Linked DNA regions of Homo sapiens. The protein of the gene in region 1 interacts with the protein of each later gene in a pairwise test. Each region holds a gene or a part of one and is shown on either strand. Other genes may lie near its edges.

Region 1 (2,524 bases):
TTGGATCACTCTGCTCCTTTCAATACTGTTAGCTACTTACTCTTTGAAGCTCTATTCCCCTGGCTTCTGAGACATCGCTGTGTTCCCACTTGCCTGAGTGAACACACCAGGCGGTCATGCTGGCCTCTCCTCTCTCCCTCACCCCACAGCCAGCCTTCTACTGAATCCTGCATTTGGGTAGCATCCTCCGTAGGCATTACGCCCATTTCTTTGTCTTGACTCACTAACCCCAGTGCAGCTATGCAAAGGCCTCCTCATGCACCTTCCAGCTACCTGCCTTGTCCCTGCCCCTGAATCCATTTTCTGCACCATGGCCAGAGTGATCATTCTAAAACGTGCGTCTGATCATGTTTCTCCTCTGCTGAAGTTTCCTCAGAGGCTTCTCATCACAGCTTCCTTAACATGTCATGTAAGGCCCTCTCTTTCCTGACCCTTAGTGAGCTAATCAGCCTATTATATGAGAGTCCGTGTGGCTTCTCCAGTTCTCCAGTTTGGACTCAGCGCCCGTCTATGCTCTTGGGGCATCTGGTGCATTTCCTTCCCTCTCTCGAAATTCCATCGAACTATATTGAAATTATATGCAAATGTCTGTCTTCTAGACACACAGTCCTTAAGGTAGGAGCCATGTCTCACTTATCTTGGTACATCTAGAGCAGCAGCTAGAACAGGGCCCGCATGCAATAGGCACTCATTAAATGTTCACTGAACCAAAGGGAATGGAGATGATAAGGATGTACTGGGAATTCCCTCAGCTACTTCCTTTGACCTTGGCCCCTTGGGTGCTTCCTTCCAGAGGCTCTGGGCTCTAATCACTCTCATGGGGTTGCAGTCACTGTTAAAGGAGCTTAAGACTTTCTCTTCAAAAGGGCTTTAGGCAGAACTTGCAGGAAGTTGTTGCAGACCTACCCATCCTGAGACAGGGAGAAACTCTTGTAAGTTGAATGCTCAGCACATTTGTATTGTCTGGACAGGGTCAGTGTCCTTCTGCTTAAAGATGACCTATGCTCCCAGACTCAGGCCCCTACCAGGGAGTCCCGGTCATTGCCAAAGAGCAGAACATCTGCCTGTGCCTCAGGGCCTCACTTACCCTTGCCACAGGGACCTGGTGATACATCTCCACCTACTGGTTGCTGAGAAAGTGAGTCACAGTCCACTTACTAGGGGTATTTGGCTTTTGGAGATGACTACTGGATGACATTAACTGTCTTGGGTTGCAGACAGAGGGAACCCAGCCAAAGAATCATCCTTTTCTCTATTTCAGGGTACATCTATTGCTTTACATGCAGACAATCTTGTAATAATATATTCCCTAAAACATCAGTCTCATGACAACAATCATATAAAGTGTGTATCCTCTCTTTGGCTTTGTAGATATCTAAGTTTACTGCTTATCACGGTTAAGCTTAGAGTCATTCACTTCTGAGATTCTACTAAGATGAAAGTCATACACATTAAGCTGTGTAGTTAGTCGCTGCACTTCTCTATACTGCCTCTTTCTATCCCTCTTGTTCAAGGATGGAATCTGGTATCTCCTCTTAGTCAGTGAAATCGGGGAGTAGCTGGTCCACTCAGCTCCTGAGGCATTTCTCATGCCAGATCTGGTTAGACAGCCCATTTGGGAGCCCTGCCTGCATGATGATAAGTGTTGTCCTGCCCTGCTAGCACTCTGTTAACACCTTTCTCTCTGCCAAGGTCATGTTTCCTTTTTTATAGCCCTGCCTTCATTAGATAAGTCAGACAGAGCCCAAGAGACAACTTCAGTATTTCTTAAAGACAAGAGTTAGCACTTTGGAGATGCAAGCCGTGGAAGAGTGGGGCAAGATAATTAAGGATCCTGGACCTCAAGGCAAATAAAGTGTGTCCCCAGCAGATCAAAACTGCTGTTTTCTGCAATCAACAATTAACCCGCAATGATTTCGCTCCTGACATGGCCATCTTTGCTGTCTTCTGAACTTCCTGTAGGTGGCAGGTCCTGGATGCTGTCCCATTTTGGTTCCAAGACTATTGTGTGGCTCTCTTGACAGGGGCCAGTCAAGTGGCAGTTTTCTCCTCTGAGTTGCAGGAGGACAGGCTTAACAGGGTGGTTCATGTGGCGTATTCCCACTTCTGCACTGTCTTCAAACAAAGTTGCAGTGTCCAGTAAAACAGCAGCCCAAATAGCAGTGAGGTTAGATGTAGGTGGCCGGGCGGTGGGGGGGCGCGGGTGCATTGGGAACTCTGGAACTGCATGAATCCCACACGGCATACTGGATTTATAATAGAGTCACTCAGAGCTTCTCAAAGACCCTGTTTTCAGGGAGGAAACAGACCAGGCTTTGTGCAGCTCCAGGCTGGGGTGCTGACATCACTGGACCCCTCCTTGTGGGGGGACGCTGTCTGTCACGTGAGCTGGGGCCATCAGTTTGAGCGTGGCTGCTCCACAGGGCCCAAGATGGAGGCTTTTCTTCTCTTTCCAACACCGAAGGGCTGCATTGGTGGGCCAGGGAGGGTGGCCTGACCCACCTGCATATCCAGTGCCCTTTAG
Region 2 (3,738 bases), about 22 Mb from region 1:
GGGGCACTCTCTCTCTCTCTTCCCCATCTGCCACCATGTAAGATATGTCTTGCTTCCCCTTCTGCCATGACCGTAAGTTTCCTAAGGCCTCCCCAGTCATGCCCTGACTTGTGGGTCAATTAAACCTTCCGTTCTTTATAAATTACCCAGTCTCAGGTAGCTGTTTAGAGCAGCATGAAAACGGACTAACACAGCAGGAAAAAGGTAAAAGGAAGATAAACATAGCTTAATGTACCTATTCCAATAGCCTCAAAGATACGAGGTTCCATTTCTTTTCTATGAATTTTTTTAAAAAACCATTATTCTCAGTGCCAACACTGACTGAAGGTGGCAAACAGCAAGCTCCAAAGACAAAAAATACAAGCAATAGAGGACAAAATATAATTAACTAAATTAAAAATACACACGAAAGACATGAAAATATCATCTATACCTTGCTAGGTCGATTCCGGGGGGATCTTGCTTTAATAAATAGATTAGTCGATTTGGAGTAGTCACAAGAATATCTATAGGAAAAACAAATGGTAGAAATTGCAAAAACAGGATTTATCCCTCTTGAACTAGGAATTAAGCCTCCTCAACTTCAGTTAATAACCTGAAGTGGGAAGTAGTCATAGCCAACAACACAAAACTATTATATCCCTACTTTCCTTTTAATATATCTGAGCAGCTTTCTCTTTCTTTTTGAGACAGGGTCTTGCTCTGTCACCCAGCCTGGATGGAGTACAATGTGTGATCATAGCTCACTGCATGCAACTTCAAACTCTTGGGCTCAAGAGATCTTCTGGCATCAGCATTCTGAGTAGCTGGGACTACAGGCACATGCCACTGCACCTGGCTAATTTTTATTTATTACTATTATTTTTTTGAGACAGTCTAGCTCTGTCGCCCAGGCTGGAGTGCAGTGGCACAACCTCGGCTCACTGCAAGCTCTGCCTCCCGGGTTCACGCCATTCTCACTCCCGAGTAGCTGGGACTACCACTAGCTGGGACTACAGGCGCCCGCCACCACGCCCAGCTAATTTTTTGTATTTTTAGTAGAGATGGTAAATTTTTTTTTTACTTTTATTTTTGTAGAAACAGGGTCTCCCTATGCTGTCCAGGCTGGTCTCGAATTCCTGGGCTCAAGCAATCTCCCTGCCTCAGCCTCCCAAAATGCCGGATTACAGGCATGAGCCACAATACCCAGCCTCTTCTCAATTTCTAAGAGGAAAGAACAATTTAATTTTCAAATCTTTTTTTCCCCCAGGAAAATCATTTTTTTTACATGGAATTTTATGCAGAGGCCCAAGATTTAAACAAAACAAAACAGATGAAAGCTTATCTCCAAGTGGACAATGTCAAAAAACAAAAAGAAAAAAAAAAAAAATGAAAGCAGATTCTCTGGCTGATATAAGGGTGAGGATGTAAGCCGTTCTTTTTGTTTTTTTTAAGATGGAGTCTCACTCTGTTGCTCAGGCTGGAGTACAGTGGTGCAATCATAGCTCATGGCAGCCTTGAACTCCTGCGCTCAAGTGATCTTCCCACCTCAGACTCCCAAGTAGCTAGGACTACAGGCATGCACCACCATGCCTGGCTAATTTTTTTTTATTTAAAAAATTTCTTTTAGAGATGGAGTCTCGCTATGTTGCCAAGGCTGGTCCCAAACTCCTGGCCTCAAGCAATCCTCCCACCTCAGCTTCTCCATAGCTATAGGTATGGAGAAGATTACAGGTGTGAGCCACTGCACCCAGCTATGCATGCCATTCCTGTCTGCCAGAGTATTTCCATGGCAGATTAAAAATCAATGGTATAAATCAGAATTTTTTAGCCTCAGCACTGTTACCACTTTGGGCCACTAAGTGTTCGTTGCAGGGGACTGTCCTGTGCACCGCAGAATGTTTAACAACATCCTTGGCTATAGGCTAGTAACTACAGGCTAGTAGCACTTCTCCCCAGTTGTGACAACTACAAATGTCTCCAAATTATTGCCAAATGTCCCTGTGGTGAAAGGTGGGGGGCAAGATTGTCTCTATTTGAGAACTACTGGTATATATTTATGTATAACTTCTCAGTAGAGTGAGAAGGGGATCGCTTTAGTTCTTCTAAAATTCAAATTTTATACATACATGACTATACTTTAACAACACTTACATAGCAATTAGGATATTTATAATTTCCAGATTCCTTACATGCTCTATCTACATCCCATGTATGAATTCCTTACCAAACTTTTTAGATGATTTAGGTCCAAATTTCTTGGCTGCCACTGCTGCTTTGTGGATCATGTGTATTCTGAATCCTGTTCCCTCAGAAATTTTTATTAACTCTCTGTGAATCTAAAAAAAAAAAGATTAAAAACATTAGCTGCTAACATACTTGGACAAGATGTATACTCTTTTACATGATTAATGAAATAAATCTATTACCAACCCATGAATATCTGAAATTAAACTCATAACAATCTGTAGATTAACCTGAAATCTCAGCATTTTGAAACTTCAATGCCTAATAAGATTCAATAATTTCTTCAGGTGGAATAAACTAGTTCCCAGAGATAAAACTAACCTATTTTGTATTGTTTTCAGAATACAGTACTACTGGCCGGGTGTGGGGGCTCACACCTGTAATCCCAGCGCTTTGGGAGGCCAAGGTGGGTGGATCACTTGAGGCCAGGAGTTCCAGACCAGCCTGGCCAACGTGGTAAAACCCCATCTCTACTAAAAACACAAAAACAATTAGCCAGGTGTGATGGTGCGCACCTGTAATCTCAGTTACTTGGGAGGCTGAGGCAGGAGAATCACTTGAACCTGGGAGGCAGAGGTTGCAGTGAGCCGAGATGGCGCCGCTGCACTCCAGCCTGGTCCACAGAGCATGACTGTCCCAAGAAAAAATACACACACACACACACACACACACACACACACACACACACACACACACATAGTACTATTACAAGACTATTTCATACTTGATATGTGTTTCATATTAAGCACATTGGGAGGGTAGAACAGATCACTGTATACTTTTCCCTTCTAAAAAAAACAAACTGAGATGAGTCAGGCATAATGACTCATGCCTGTAAGCCCTGTACTTTGGCAGGCCAAGGTGGGAGGATCACTTGAACCCAGGAGTTCAAGACCAGCCTGGGTAACATAGGGAGACCTTGTTTCTACAAAAAGAAAAAAATTAACCAGGCGCAGTGGCATGTGCCTGTAGTCCCAGTTACTCAAGAGGCTGAAGAGGGAGATCTCTTGAGGCCAGGAGTTCGAGGTTGCAGTAAGCCATGATCACACCACTGCATGCCAGCCTGGGTAACAGAGTAAGAATCTGTGGCTAAAAAACAAACAAATAAATAAATAAAAACCAAAACTAAGATGAGTATTCATTTTTTTTAGATGAGAAAAATAAATGTCCAAGCAGGGCTATATTTAATTAGCCTTTCAACTTCAAAGACCTTAAAGCATTTACCAAAGAAGTGTAAATATTAAAATCACTGTGTTTTAGAAACTTACAGAAAGACTTAAAAGACTTGCCCACATGGAGTAAGATCCGGAGCACTGTGCTGTGTAGAGGATACTTGACCATGACAGAAGACGTGGGCCTTGCTTTTTAAGATCTTTTTATTACCTTCAAATAAGAAAGATCACTGAAGTAAAAACCAATCGCATACTCTTCAAAAGCTACAAGTCATACCTGGCTGGCAAGTTCTCGTGTTGGTGATATAATCAGGGCTCTGAAGCCTTTATTTGCGGGTTG

What was found.
Region 2: the proteins of PMP22 (region 1) and DDX52 interact in a two-hybrid assay, tested with the Homo sapiens proteins (one large-scale study listed by BioGRID and IntAct).

What each region holds. Positions count from the first base shown.
Region 1 is NC_000017.11:15,231,803-15,234,326, reverse strand, and holds part of PMP22 (peripheral myelin protein 22), read left to right. Parts: intron 1-1,713; coding exon of another isoform or gene 1,714-1,784; exon of another isoform or gene 1,785-2,524. UniProt on the Homo sapiens protein: Might be involved in growth regulation, and in myelinization in the peripheral nervous system.
Region 2 is NC_000017.11:37,626,355-37,630,092, forward strand, and holds part of DDX52 (probable ATP-dependent RNA helicase DDX52), read right to left. Parts: coding exon 3,676-3,738; exon of another isoform or gene 3,522-3,675; coding exon of another isoform or gene 3,495-3,521; intron 2,319-3,494; coding exon 2,207-2,318; intron 507-2,206; coding exon 434-506; intron 1-433.